Linked DNA regions of Homo sapiens: regions 1 and 3 are each linked to region 2. Evidence: fine-mapped expression QTL. A gene starts in region 2. Each other region holds a variant in brackets. All regions are shown on one strand. Distances are from middle to middle.

What was found. PIP is the estimated chance that this variant, and not a neighbour inherited with it, causes the effect. A credible set is the group of variants that fine-mapping cannot tell apart.
Region 1: its variant is the best candidate, but not a certain one, in a credible set for the expression of KIDINS220 in pancreas (GTEx, PIP 0.64).
Region 3: its variant is the best candidate, but not a certain one, in a credible set for the expression of KIDINS220 in whole blood (TOPMed, PIP 0.65).

The regions. Positions count from the first base shown.
Region 1 is chr2:8,765,410-8,770,637 of GRCh38, forward strand. All of the region lies in intron 22 of KIDINS220 (kinase D interacting substrate 220), which reads right to left. Among named protein-coding and RNA genes, the nearest start is that of KIDINS220, 70 kb to the right of the region's middle. The variant A/G (reference allele first, on the strand shown) is at 2,103.
Region 2 is chr2:8,834,588-8,839,815 of GRCh38, forward strand. KIDINS220 (kinase D interacting substrate 220) reads right to left here and starts at 3,026. Exons shown (of 30, transcript NM_020738.4): 1 at 2,893-3,026. RefSeq lists silencers at 3,083-3,142, 3,153-3,202.
Region 3 is chr2:8,749,999-8,755,226 of GRCh38, forward strand. It overlaps KIDINS220 (kinase D interacting substrate 220), which reads right to left. Exons shown (of 30, transcript NM_020738.4): 23 at 1,468-1,646; 24 at 114-337. Among named protein-coding and RNA genes, the nearest start is that of ID2, 71 kb to the left of the region's middle. The variant G/A (reference allele first, on the strand shown) is at 2,032.

The DNA of each region.
Region 1 (5,228 bases), 69 kb before region 2:
TATCAGAGAGCCAGACCATGGCAAGAAACAGGAAGGAAGGCAGTTTTTTAAATGATACAAAAAGTTGGCTATAAATCCATCATTAAAAAATAAAGAATAAAACGATCCTAAGAAACAAGAAAGTATTGCGACAGGGGAGACACAAAGGGAAATTAGTCTTATAAATTCTTGCAGATGTTTAGAATAACTAATTTTCTTTCAATACCCTGCAACAGGACTGTAGGTGAGGTTATTTACTTCCTAGCTCACATAGAAAATGCCACAATGTGCTATTTCTATAACCCAACTTTTATTATCTTTAAAAGACAAGGTTTCACTAGTCACCCAGGCTGGAGTGTGGTAGCTATTCACAGGCACAGTCATGGCACGCTGCAGCCTCCAACTCCCAGGCTCAAGTGATCCTCCTACCTCAGCCTCCCGAGTAGCTGGGATTACAGGCGTACTCCACCATGCCCGACTCTATTAATCATTTCATCTTTACTGTGGGATAGCCAATTACTTTCTGAACTTTTCATTTACCTTAATTTTTCCACCCAGGTTCATTCCTATTCCCTTCCCACCGTGAGAGTCTCAAAACAAGCTCCCTTGAATCAACAGGCTTCCCTAACTCAGGCCAAGCTGCACTGATACAGCAAATAGGCCCTGAAGCATCAGGGTAATGGCCACACATTTTTCAAGACCCTGCAACGAATCCCCATCTTACTCAGGGTAAAAGCCAAAGTCCTTACCATGGTCCTCCAAAAGGGGTCCATGAACCCCACTGGTGACCCGACCTGACCTCCTACTCACTTGCTTCACTGCACCCCATCTCACCACATCAGCTCCCTTGTTGCTGTTCCTTCAACATTGATTCCAGGTGCTCTCTGGCCCGGAACTGTTCCCTCTGCCTGGAAATGCTTTCTCAGATACCTGCCTGGAAAACTGTCTTGCCTCCTTCAACCCTTCCTCAACTCTTCCCTTCTCCATGAGGACAATCCTGATCCCCTTACTTAATGCAGAACCTGCACTACTCTTCATCTCCTTAACTCTCTTCTACCTTTTATTCTTTCCACCACACTTGCTGCCTTTAACATGCTAATTATGTATTATATATGTTGTTTATTACCCATCACTCTCTGACAGACTGCAAGCTCCTCGGGGCAGGGATCTTTGCTGGTTTTGTTCATGGATACACCCAAGCTCTCAGAACTGTGCCTGGTCCATAATAGGTGTCCAATAACTGTTTTCTGAATAAATGAATGAATTTTAAGCTTTCTCCCCTTAATTTCTCTCACATCTTTGGATGTTGCTGGAAATCTAGTAACAACAACAAAATAAATAAGTAGCAAAATACACAAATAGGTAAACTAAAAAAAAGCCAAACACGTCAGTTTAATGCATTTCATTGTTTTCTCCACACAACAAAAGTAGGCATGATTTAAAGATACATCAAAATAAGCTAAAAAATTATGCCCTTCACCTTTATCTTTAGAAATCTCAATTGTCCAATTTTCACAAAGACATGGATAAAAATAATGCAAAGCCAGAAATGCACATTGAATGGTCAACATTACATCTGATTATGGCTATATTTATACAAGGTTTGCAGGCTCACTCTTCACACTGAACTTGGCAAATATACAAATGTCATTTATTTCTGTCCAGATAAAACATGATTTCTATTATAGATGACACAATCTTTATTTCAGTAAAAACCTGCTTAGTTTCCTCTCCTATATGGGGAATTATCTTGTAATTTTACAAATAACTAGATCAGGCTTTATCTTTAAAAAGATAAAGATATGGATAAAATATTGAACCTCTGCGGTCAAAGCAAGTGTGTTTTGAGAATAAAGATGGAAACAATAATTATATAAAAGATAGTAATTTAATAAATTTTGAATGATGACAACACCAATACCTACAAATAAGTCATATATCAAAAACAAAGAATTTCATGAAGATTCTAAGCTATATATAAAAAACACCAAAATAGCATGCATTAAACAGTTTTTGGAATAAATATTGCTAGTATCTCAAAAACTAAAGAGAAAAATTATCAGTACAAAGGATGGACTTTGTACTACAAAGGAGGTGAAGCAACAACTTCCTCTAAACTAACT[A/G]ATGTTAAATTTTTCATGCTATCCACATTCATAACTTAAGTCCACATGCAAAAGAAACAAGCTTGTGCAATAATCCAGGCCAAATGATGGCGGGGAAGAGAGGGAAGGAGAGCTGATCATCACCCAGAAAATGATGGAGAGAGCAAGCAGGTTAGTGAGAGCTACAAGAGGTATGAGATGACTACATGTGATAAAATGAAGCTTATGAAAGCTTTGGGTGAATATCAGGAGAGGTTATCATAAAATATGATGTTTTATTATGAGAATGTCCTAAATAATGTATAGAAATAACATTACTTGAATAATTTAAAAATAACAGGTCTATTAAAGTCATAAATTAGATGTCCATATTGTCTGTACAGCAAATTGCTACTTCAATGAAATGGAAAATGGCTACTATTCTGAAGCACCCTTAGAACTTATTCAACTGTTCTTTAAACATCAAAATAAAGTACCAAAATAAAGAATGTTGTTATCCTTATCACAAACTTATTCTGACCATATCATGGCCTGGGTAAAAGATTGACTGAGCAGTGTCAAAACAGAAATTTAAAGCACTATCTTCATGAAAACTACTTAAATTCATTTTTTTAAAAACCACTATCATTCTGCTTTAAATGCCAGAAATAAAGTTTTAGATTAAAATATTTCAATGGTTGTCTAAAATGCTGCAATAAAAACTAGACAAAAAATTTTTAGTTTTTATTTTACTCCCTTTCTTACTAAATGTATGTTAAAAAAAAAAAAAACTCTCAAATGATCCAGACAAAAGCTTTCAACTCAACACATAATTGCAAGAAAATTACAATAATTGTACCAATTAAAACCATCTTGAATGAACAGTGTGTCATCTTAATGTTCCCGTGGTTTACAGAGGGGTCTATTTAATTCGCTGAAATTGCTTTCCAGTGTTAGTATCAAATGTCATTTGTTAAAAGTTGAACAATTTAGAAAATAATTTAACAATTTCACCAAACACCAAGAACCAACATTTTCTTTTTCACCTGAATAAAGCCAGCAGATGTGTCATCAAATTGCTATAAAAATAAACGAGGCTTTTTATGCATTAAAAAAATAAATTTTACTACTAGCGTTAAAAATACTATTTTCTGATTGTTTTTACCAAATCATATTTCTTTAGTACAACAAATGAATATCAATTACATACTGCTGCTTTTTGTCGGCTGTAAATAAAACTTTCTCTTATTCAAATGACAAGCAATAGCATCAAAGAACTCAACTACAGTTAACTAGAAACATAATCATCTAGATTATTCTCACATACTTTAATATCTGGCTTTCCAATATGTTAATCAAAGTGTCTTCCTATAGTTTTTCATTCCAAATCCTTATTATATATAATTATTTTAAGTCAATTCATACGAATTATCAATGATTGCTTACTATATTTTTTCTCTTCCTTAGACTAGCTACGAAATATTCTTTGTAAGTAGTTGCAGGCATTTAAGACTTAAATATACCTATTTCACCAGGAAGAGAAGAAAAGCATCTCAAAATCACCCCAAATCCAGCCCAGTCATAGATGGCAAGCCTGCCAAATGCCGAAGTTTAAAGTAATGAGTTGGTTTAATGGCAAAGCAAAGTTCACATCCCTCATTCTATCCCCACCTAACACCTCTGCACTTTCCAAAGTGCAAGAATACATAAGGCACCTAGCAAAGTACCTGACGTGAAGGAAGGAGGTCAGTAACACTAAGTGACTCGACCTCCTTAAGCAAGGACCCATGTGAGATAACTAGTTCTCCTGTGCCCAAGTTTACAAATTTCTTGAAATCTAGAAATACATTCCTGGAGTAATATACTACTCCTAAACCAATTCAGACAGGGTCTAAGAATCTAAAGCAGCCACAAATTCCTTCCACTACTGTTTCTTAAGACATCACTCCACAGTTCCTAAACGAAGGCTTATTCTTTTTTATGACACATTTTTATTTACACACAAATGATAACAACAACAATCTTGAGGATAGATGAGAGTGTCAAGGGATTACCTGTTTACATTAAATAGGGCTTTATGTATAAATATAACATGCGAAAAATAAACCTCATTATATTGGTATGAATTATTACGAGGCACTTAAATATTTTTAAAACTTAAGTTTTAACCGCTTAGCAAACGTTCATAATTATACAGCACTTGTATTATAATACAAACGTTTATTCACGAAATAAAACCTTGTATGTACAATAAAATATTGTACTACAGAACCAAGAGAAAAACGAATCATGCATCTCACAATAAGATGATTTGTAAAACCTCAAAGACCAGATGCAATTCAGTACCACTTCTCAATAGGCAGACAGTAATTATACATCACTGCATCTACTGGAACACCTACTTGATACAGCACACAGGTTTAAACCACTAAACTACTTTCATATAAATTAAACAGCAAAACCTAGAAGAGCTCAAATCTGTGGACTAATACAACAACATCTATAATTCTAAAACCAGTTATTTACTTAGAAAACATTAAATGTGTACATAAAAAATAGGAACTAGAAAAATAGGAAAACCATATACTGACAATACTCTAAGGAAATAAAAGTTATCTGAAATCTTAGAAGTGTATATAAACTATACACTAAGGCTGGGCACAGTGTTTCACGCCTGTAATCCCAGCACTTTGGGAGGCCAAGACAGGAGAAATGCTTGAGCCCAGGAGTTTAAGACCAGCCTGGGCAACACTGCAAGTCCCCGCCTCTACAAAAAAATAAAAAGAAAGAGCCAGGAGTCCTGGTGCACGCCTACAGTCCTAGCTACTTGGGAGGCTGAGATGGGAGGATGACTTGAGTCCAGGAGTTTGAGGCTACAGTGAGCTATGATTGTGCCACTGTGCTCCAACCCGGGTGACAGAGAGAGATCCTGTTTCTAAAAAATTTTTTAAAATTTTAAATAAACTTTATATACCTGAAAAAGGAAAAGTTTGTCCAAATAAAGTCATAGATTTTACATGACAGGATATATACCTGTGCTAATACAACTCCAAAATTATAATGGAATTAATAAGAATGATTAAATCCAGGAGTATACATTTTATACATATTATTTTGTATTGTCTGCTTTATACGCGTTTTTTTTTTTTTTTTAACTCAACCTAAAAT
Region 2 (5,228 bases):
ATGTAGCTCAATGAGAATAAAGACTATCTGTTTTGTTTACTGCTGAATCTCCAGCACTTAAGAGAAGTGCCTGGTACACCACAGAACCCAGTATCGGTAGAATGAATGGACATGCCCAAGCTGATCCAACCACCTGTAATGCCTGACCCAACTTTAACATTCTTAACAAGCCAAAACACACCCTTCAAAACCCCCCTCGCGGGTCACCTATAAACTAACTTATGTATGTATATGTATGTATGTATGTATGTATTTAGTTATTTATTTTTATTGAGACAGGGTCTGGCTCTATTGCCCAGGATGGAGTGCAGTGGCACATTCATAGCTCACTGCAGACTCAAACTCCTGGACTCAAGCGATCCTCCTGCCTCACCCTCCCTGAATAGCTGGGACTACAGGTGCATGCCAACACACCCAGATCATTGTTTACATTTTTAATTTTTGTAGAGACAGGACTTGCTATATTGCCGAGGCTGCTCTTGAACTCCTAGCCTGAAGTGATCCTCCTGCCTTAGCCTCCCAAAGCACTGAGATTACAGGTGTGAGCCTGCATGCCCAGCCTTGAACTAATTTATTAAGGGCTGTCTCTCTCCTTCATTCTTACATCCCCAGAACCTATTACAGATCTAGAACAGGTAGAAACTTAATAGATAACCATCAAATTAAATAACTGCATAGGTATGCTAAAGATACCTCTTCTGAAGGACTTTGCCCACCCACAGCCCCTGCTACCCTCAACAGCCATGTTCTCTAGCATCAGCCATTCCCAGGGATGGGCATATGATCTGTGGCATGAAACTGTTGAAAAAGATAAGCTGGGCCAATCAGACTTCTCTCTCTAGAACTGGGAATTAGAAACCAGAGACTGGGCCAATCAATATGGGTCACACATAAAATGATACAGTTCTGAGACAGCCAATCAGCAAAGAGAGAATACAACAGATATGAACAGAAAAGAGACTCCTCCTAAGTAAGAGAACAAATGTGGCCCCTAAGAGGAGGTCAGGGCTGCAGTGAGCCAAGATCACACCACCTGCACTCCAGCCTGGGCAACAGAGCCAGACCCTGTCTCAAAAAAAAAAAAAAAAAAAAAAAGTTGCCCCAGGGAGATGTAGAAAATGGAGGTACCTGGGATCCTGACTTCTTTCTGACTCTCATTCAATCCTATTATCTCCTTTTCCTTGAAGTAAAAGGTTTAAGTTTCTACTGTCTTCTAAACAGCCCTGACAAATACAGTAGCACATAAAATGGAGAAACTGACCGTTCTTGAGCAAAAGCAGGAAGAAGGGGATGGCACATTCATACATGATCCTATAAAAATTAATCTGGCAGTGTATGTGACCCAGACTGGAAAAATACAAAGAATCAGGGCCCTAGATACCAGTCAAGGAATCACCAGACAGTACACAAGAGAGGCAGTGGGAATAGAGAAGAAATGAGGGATATTAACTTGAAAAATATAAAATCCCTGACATTTGAACTTTCTGAACTACCAAAATATCCAGAAGAGATATTCTGGATATAAAGATAAAACTATGTGACTGGTTGGAAAAGAAAACAGGTGGAAGATGACCAGATGCCCAGCATAGGTGACTGAAGAATGGAGCTGCCCTTAACCAAAAAAAAAAAAGCAGGAGAAAGAGCAGACTTTTCTCTACTTAAGTTATGCCTCCTCCCTTCCACCACCCCAGCTGGGCGAATGGGGCTTTGGCCAGGCTGAATTTGAAGTGTCCCAAAAGAACTAGGTTGGAGAAACCCACCCAATACTTGGAAAAAGATACCGTTCACACTGTGTGTGAATGATCTGGAAATTATTCACACAAAGGGTGTAGAACAAGGATTCTCAAACTTGTGTGCACCAAAATTATTTGGGAAGCTTGTCAAATACACATATCCCTTGAGCTCCTCCCCGGGAGAATCCCATTCCCTAGATCTGGGGTGGTGCCCAGAAACTGACATTTTAACAAGCACCCCAAAATGATTCTGATGAAAGTAGTCCATGCTAGTAAAGCTAGAAGAGAACAAAGAACACACCTGGCCACGGCATTTCCCAACCTGGGCTCTGCACTCAATACCCCACGGTGGTTTAAAAAGGTGTAGATGTCTGGTCCTCAGTGTTGTCAAAATGTGGACAGGAACGAACCTGAAGGGGTGATTCCCGAGCCACACCTCAGGCCGAAGGAATGGGAATCTCTAAAACGCTAAGAAATCTACATTTTTAACAAGCGCCCATAGGGAGCAGAGATGGCTGCATAGTTATTCATAAAAAAATTTTTCATCGGTTTAAACCTGTCAACTTGAAAGAATAAAAATTCCAACATTACAAAGTGATGAAGAAATTATTTCCCTATAAATAAATCTTGGAGGCGTGGAAATCAATGGCTTGCACTATTTTGCCAGGCGTTTAAAAGCCTGCACAGGACAATGGAGCAATGGAGCCCACGATAAAAGCAAGGGAGAAAACAACACCTCCCGGCCCGTGGAAGCCTAGGAGGAGGAACCTAGAAAGACTAGCGGTACCAGCTAAGGGGGCTCTCAAGGTGGTGGATGTGCCAGAGGCTGCTTGGCAAAAGAAAAAAAACGGTTTTACCAACACCCTTCACCCCAACCCACCCGAGGGGCCCCTCAGGAGACAGACCACCAGAGACTCCAAGGTCGGAGACCTTCCCGGCGCTCCAGGAAACGCGGACTCGCCCCGAAAGCCGGGGCCCGAGCGTCCGGGGCCCGCGCCATGCCCTCCCCGGGACCCCCGGTCCGAGCTCGCCCCTTCCGCGCACTCCTCGGCTGTCCCACCTCCCCGCCCGACTCCCCGAGCCCGGCCTCGCCCCCGACTCCTCCCCAATCCCGCGGCAAAGCTTCGCGGACCGGCCTCCACACTGACGGTCTCCCAACCTGGTCCTCAGCTCCGGCGGAACGGGCCCGCTCGGCTGCAGGCGATGTCAGAGGACGGGGAAGCAAGAGACGGCGACTGCAAGCGCGTCGCCCTCACCACACCCGGCGGCCATATTCTTCCCTCTCCGCGAACTGACAGATCACGTGCCCTGGGTAGGGGAGGGACTCCGGGTTGCCACGCCCCCTGGGCGTGGAGGGGAGGGGCGGGGCGGGGCGTAGAGCAGGCGGGGCTGGAGGGGCCGCGGGGCGGGGACACCCAGGACAAGCGCCCCAGGCAAGGTTTTTCAGTGTCAATGTCACTCTTATTACAGTTAATTTATTATCCCTATTTTCCATTATAATCAAGCTTATTCAGAGAAATAAACATCAATTATATCTTCAGAAGAAACTGCACATACATAAGAAATGAAAGCCCGCTCAGCAGCCTTCTTCCGGATCCAGGAGCGAGACCTCTGCCTTTCGCGGGGCCTGTAGTTCACACTCCTTCCAGGTCTCCCAGCACCTCCCCTCACCTCCTTCAGCCTCCACATTCCTAGGCCTTGCTGCCAACAAGCGTCAATCTTGATTTTTGAAAAGGTCCAAGGATGATTACGACGTGCGTAGGTTGCGAACCATCGAAAAGCACCCACCAATGTGTCAACCTGGCAACTCAGGAAAAAGCCAATAAGGAGCCTGACTTCATCAGAAGTTGGTGCGGGGTGGGGACAATGGCTCACTCCTGTAATCCCAGCATTTTGGGAGGCCAAGACGGAGGATCACTTGAGCTCAGGAGTTTGAAACCAGCCTGGGCAACATGGAGAGACCTCTTCTCTACAAAAAAAAAAAAAAAAAAAAAAAATACAAAAATACAAAACTTAGCCAGGCGTGGTGTTGCACACCTGTAGTCCCAGCCACTTAGGAGACAGAGGTGAGAGGATCACTTGAGCCCAGGAGTTCGAGGCTGCAGTGAGCTGAGATCACACCACTGCACTTCAGCCAGGGCAACAGGGCAAGATCCTATCTCCAAACAAACAAACAAACAAACAAAAACGGAAGTTGGTGTGCCCCTCATGAAACAAGGAGCGAACACCCCAACGTGTACAGTGGAGTCCTAAATGGTGTGATTTCTTCGATAATGACTTGCTAAGGCCAGCCACTGTTGTAAACAGGGCAGGGTGGGTCAGGCGTTGGGGGTTAGAAGTATGGTAGGTGTATTAGCCCGTTTTCACACTGCTATAAAGAACCACCTGAGACAGGGTAATTTATAAAGAAAAGAGGTTTAATTGACTCACAGTTCTGCATGGCTGGAGAAGCCTCAGGAAACTTAAAATCATGGCGGAAAGGGAAGCAAACACGTCCTTCGTCACATGGCTGCAGGAAGAGAGGTGCCCAGCAAAAGGGTCAAAAGCCCCTTTTACATCCAACAGATCTCGTGAGAATTCACTCACTATCACGAGAACAGCACGGGGGAAACCGCTGACGTGATCCAATCACCCCCGACCAAGTCCCTCCCTTGACACGTGGGGATTATGGGGAATACAATTCGAGATGAGATTTGGGTGGGGTCACAGAGCCAAACCATATCAGTAGGATATAAGGATGAAGCCAACCTTAGAGTAGGGGAGAAGACAAGGAAACAGGTTAAATGTGCGTTATTTAGCACAGCCTTTCTGAGTCCTGACCATGTCCTAGGCACAGTGCAGTAAGGAGGTAAGCACAGAGGATGGAGTTACCAACTCTGCTTGGGGTCCACTAGGAAGGTTCACAAAAGAAGGGACCCCCCCCCCCCGCACCTCCAGCTGTATCTGAAGTATAGTTTGTCCATCACATCAGTTGGATGGGGCTAGGAAGAATGTCCAGGTCGGGGAACAACACTTTGGAAAAGAATAGAGATGAGAAGGAGGGTGGCCCAAAGTTCCAGGAACTGTCAATATTTGCCAGCCTTGGGGCTGGGGTGGCAGCATGGGAGGGGGCAGTAGATGGAGCAGGGGTCAGCCTCTGAAGGGCCTTGAGTGTTAAGTACCATTTGGGAATTTGTTCTAGGGAAATAGAAGGCCACTGAAGGGATTAGAAGAGTATCAAATTTGTCCTATGGAAATAGAAGGCTGCCTCCCCCAGCATCCACTACCCTTCCCACCACCCCCCAACCCCATCTTTCCTCAGCCTCCAGCTGTTTCCCTCAATCCCCTCCATCCTCCTCTTATCCTCTCACTGCTTCCTCCACCCTCTGCCCCCACATCCTCCCCCAACTCTCCCCACACCCCTCTTCCTCCCATCCCCCCCTCTGTCCTCCCGTCTTCCTCCAGCCACCCAAGCCTCTCCAATCCTCCCACCACTTCCCCTAGTCCTCCTTCTGT
Region 3 (5,228 bases), 85 kb before region 2:
TCCTATGCTAAAGCCAAAGTACAGCTTTAAAACCAAAACAGAATCCACAAGCAGAAAACTGAGGTTTCCCTGTAACAAATTCTTAAAAATAAAGCTGCCTCCAACTTCCTTACCCTGTTGTAGAAGGGATGCTGAGGGCCCGTCATGCCGCTGTAATAGCTGCTGTGAGGCTGTGGTGACACCACTCCACCTGCGAAGGGCCCATTGAAGGACGTGGAAGAGCACACGGATGGGGGCTGGCTGTACCCTGATGGCGCCCTAGGAGGACCCTCATGTAGAGGGAGCGGGGGGTACGCCAGTCCTCCAATACTGATCTGCTCTCTGGCAGCACGAACATCTGAAAGATTCAATCAGACCCCAGAAGGCAAGAGAAAACAGGACATTAGGAATCAGTCCAATTATCACATTCTTCTTTAGTTACTAGGCAGAAACATGACTTTATCACTCTTGCCACGGATTCCAACTAGATTAAAAAAGAAGACAGAAAATCTTGAAAACTCACAGGCCTTTTAGTGAGAAATGCCCAGCTACTTTGCAAAAAAGCATTTTCACCATTCGAAGTCACCAATATCTGGATTCTTCTCTTCAGTTATTGGAACAATTGACTCTTCTCTAACTCTTAAAGGATTTAAGATATTCTAACAATTACTTTTATTCATAACGTTATCAAGTATTAATAACTCATATTTGTTGGGTATTAACACATATAATGTTAGCAAAGACTGTGGGTTTGCAAATTATGAGACTCATCCACCTCTGAACAACAACAAATTCCACAGCCATGTAATACCCTTTGACATCAGCCTTGTAACAGGTACCTAGAAAATAGAATACAGAAGTAGTTTAAGGCGATCTCCTCACAGTTCCTGGAAAACTCAAAGGCAGGTCAGCAGAGCCATGTCATACAAAAGACTGTTTCAATGAAGGTTTTATGTGTGTGCACGTGCACAGAGTGGTACCTCCAGAACTTCATTTATTCCAAAGCCTTAATGTCACTACCCTGAAGCTCTAGTCCCCAGATTTAAGTTAATATCTGAAAAGTAATATAAAGATTTTCTTACTTCTCTGGATAGAGATCCCTGTTAAGAACCAAAGACTGGTGACAAGCAAATTACAATGAATGGATATCATGAAGTCATGACTGTATGTTAAAAGAAATCCAATTCCAAAGTTCCAAAGGAAGGACTTGGGTGGGGGCGGGAGGGGTGGGGACAGGGATCATAATAAAGTGAGATCCACAAATACTAACAGGATTTTCTTTTTTTTTTTTTTTGTTTTTGTTTTTCTTAACATTCTCAAAAGGATGCCAAGACTCCTAATCTTTAATTTCATGAATTTTTCTGTGTAGTGCTTAGTTCAATACCTCTTGGTTTTTCATAGAGCAGGAGAAATGTACACAAATAAGTTAGAAACATGAAAAATTCTTAGAACTTTAGATGAAAAATTAAATTTACTACTAATACCCACCTGCAATAATTTCCCGTAGTTTGGGATCTAGGTTTACAGTGCATGGCAAAAAGACTTTTACATCTCGAGCCACAAGAACTGGGGTCCTTGAAGACAAAAACACTTCAAAATTTCTTATATCTCCATCAATTTCAAGAAGTGGCTCAACATCCTTAGTTGTTGGAATATTCTTTGATATTCTTCAAATAAGAAATCAATGAAAAAGGTTATTAATGTCACTATTAGAAAGGTAAATTCTGCATGTCACCTGAAGTTACTTATACAACAATTACACATCTTGGTCTGATGGATTTGGTCTAATTACACATCGGCTCACTGCAACCTCTGCCTCCAGGTTCAAGCGATTCTCCTGCCTCAGCCTACCTAGTGGCTGAGGTTACAGGTGTGCACTACCATGCCCAGCTAATTTTTGTATTATTAGTAGAGACGGGGTTTCACCATGTTGGCCAGGCTGGTCTCGAACTCCTGATCTAAGTTGATCCACCCACCTCAGTCTCCCAAAGTGCTGGGATTACAGGTGTGAGCCATCATGCCCAGCCAAAAAATCTATTTTTAATTTTTAGG[G/A]TTTTTTTTGAGACAGAATCTTGTTCTGCCACCCAGGCTGGAGTGCAGTGGTGCAGTCTTGGCTCATTGCAACCTCTGCCTCCCAACTCAAGCTTTCCTCCCACCTCAGCCTCCAGGGTAGCTAAGACTACAGGCTCATGCCACCATGCCTGGCTAATTTTTGTATTTTTCTATACAGACGAGATTTCGCCATGTTGCCCAGGAGGCTCTTGAACACCTGGGCTCAAGCATTCCATTCACCTTGGCCTCCCTATTGGGATTACAGGCATGAGCCACCTCATCCAGTCTAAAAATTTTTTTTTTTAATAAAAGAGAAAGAAACTCAAAAAAGTAGTATGGTTACAAAAAAAGGTAACAATGAGTACGGCCAGAATTCTACTGCCTTTGGCCATGGCAGGACTTGGGTGGGAAAACAGAAGGAAAGACGCACATGCACAGGTGTGTCATATGCTCGGGGTCACCTAAGCTGGCTAAGGGTCACCCCTCAATGAAGATTCATTGAGTTATTGCTTTACAGATGAGGACAGTGGCCTCAGACAAATTAAACAGATGGCCCAAAGTCACACAACTACGAAAGCAAATCTGACTGGTTCTGAAACCCATGTTTTAAATAGAATACCACAGTTTCTCCTTTGCAAAGAAAACAAGAAATCAAGAACTTATAAATAAATTACACAGATTAAAAAAAAGCTAAGTTTTTCCTTTTTTAAAAAGGGTTTTGTTTCCTATTGTAAAAGTAATATATGCTTACTATATATGTATATACGTAAGATAGAAAAACAGACAGGAAAAAACATACTTTAACCAATCAGACACAATACCTCCTAATATAATATGTCACTTAGTCTTTTATTATGCAGAATGTTTTGTATAACTGAGTTCAAGCAATATGTAAACAATTCTGTATCATGCAGAGACTCTTGAATGTAAAAATAAGTAATATTCAATTAAAAACACTTATTAAACACTACTGTATGAAACTGTAGTTTTTGTAGGTCAAAAATGGTCAAATGTTGACAATTCCTGATCTAAGGCAGTAAGCAAGAACGCATCACCGAGGGATAAAGGAAAGAAAAAGAAAGAGAAGTTAAAAGACAAGAGGTAGATGAGAAAACTAGAAACAAATCAAATGTCCACTAACAGATGGAAGGATAAATAAATAGTGGTATATCCACACAACGGAATACTACTCAGCCAAAAAAAAAATGAACTACTGATACAAAGAACATGGATGAATCTCTCAATAAATTAATCCAACCAATAAAGAGTGTATAGCAATATGTTTTCATTTGTATAAAACTAGAAAATGCAAACCAATCTAAAGTATCAATGCAGAGCAAGGTTTGCTGTGAAGTTAGGAATGTGAGGCAGGAGGGAGACAAGGGAGGGTATCAAAGGAAGACGTGGAAAATTTTAGAACTGATGGAAACATTTACTCTCTTGATTGTGGTAATGACTTTGTGGGTATATACATTTATCAAACTCGTGAGATTGGTCAATTTAAATATGGCAGTTTATTGTATGTCAATTACACCTCCAAAAGTTGTTTAAAAATCACTGGATATATCCTTCCAATTAAACAAGAATATTAACTGTTAGATTATACTAAGTGAGCACAGTTGCAGAGGAGCAGTAAGATTTTCACGCCCTTCAAAAAGTGAAATGGGAACCTTATTCTAATGTTAGTAACAGTTATATCATTTCTTTGGGACTAGCACTTTACTGCTCAGACCCAATACTTGGCTAGTAGCCAAATATTGAAAGTCATCTAAGGGAAAAACCCAGAGAACACAATTAGCAAACAAGAAGAGAATAGGGTGCTGGGGAGAAAATAAGGGTAGCAATTTTCTCTTAATTAACTTCAGAAAGTCCGTTTTACAGACACAGACACATGCACAAGACAGAAAAGCCCTCTGAGATGGGGTTACTTTTAATACATTAAAATCGTGTTCAAACTGATTATTAAATATATTTAAAATGAAATGGAAAACCTGGAGAATGGTTGCAAGTGGTGATAAAATCAGAGCTTAAACAGTTAAATAGGTAGTTCATCTATTGCAGGAGTTGAACACAAAATACTAAAAAGAGAAGCTAGAAAGATTTAGATAAAAACACACAGCTGACAAGTCACATGAAACAAATTAACTGCATTTTAATGCCAGCTCTGCTTCTGCCTGAATGCAACAGTGTTCTCAGTATGATGAACAATGCTGCTGTTCACAAGCCAACAGGCTACTGCTGGCTTCCAGATTGAAGTCTCTATTCTAACCTTCTGAGCTCAATACATTAAACTCTTCTGCTGAAAGAGATATTTATGTAAATGATAATCTTTTGGCAGTGGGCCATCAAAATCATATGTGCCTTTATTTTTCAGATATTTTTCCAAAGGTTAGCATTTAAAGAATTTAAGTAACTTCACTTTTCAGTTAAGAGTGAATTTGAATTTCCAGCATTATGAATCATGTGAATTAAAGTTGCCAGCAGTTAAATGGCCCAAAGAAAGCATTATAAAACCTCAGGCATCAATGAGCTCCTAGTAAGTCTAAATGCAATTTCCTTCTATGCTACCAATCTAGCAATACTTGTTAATGCCAACATCAATGTAAGTTAAAAGCATTTTGATTATAAATGACAGTGGTTTATACAAAGTCCATATTAATTCCTTGGCAGAAATTGCATAAACTATTCATATCACTTCCATTCAAAATGAGGTTTTAAATTACATAAAAGATTTCTATTTTAAATCAAAATATAAACAGATTCTTAGAGCAGAATTTATGAAGAAAGTATTATTTATCACATTTTATCTAAAAGTAGCTGCCTAATAATGTCATTATTTAGTAGGATGTTAAAAAATAAGACACAATTTGTTTAAAAATTTAAACAGAGAAAACTCTTAAATGCCTTAGAATTTTATTGCCTTGAAACAAATTTAACTTCTAATAGACTCTCAAATACTTTCTACCAGTGAATGTCCATTTATTAAATACCATCCATGAACAGAACACTTTGGAGATTCTGGGAGACAGACAGAACACACAGACAGAAAACAGCCACTTGGCATTGCAGCCAAAAAGTCAGAAACAAAGAAAAAATGGAGTCCATTTATACACCCACTGCCATCTGTGAAAAGGCAAAAGCCCTGGATACCTCAGGAGCTGGCTACACCCTTCCATCTTCACCCTGTTAATTCCTAC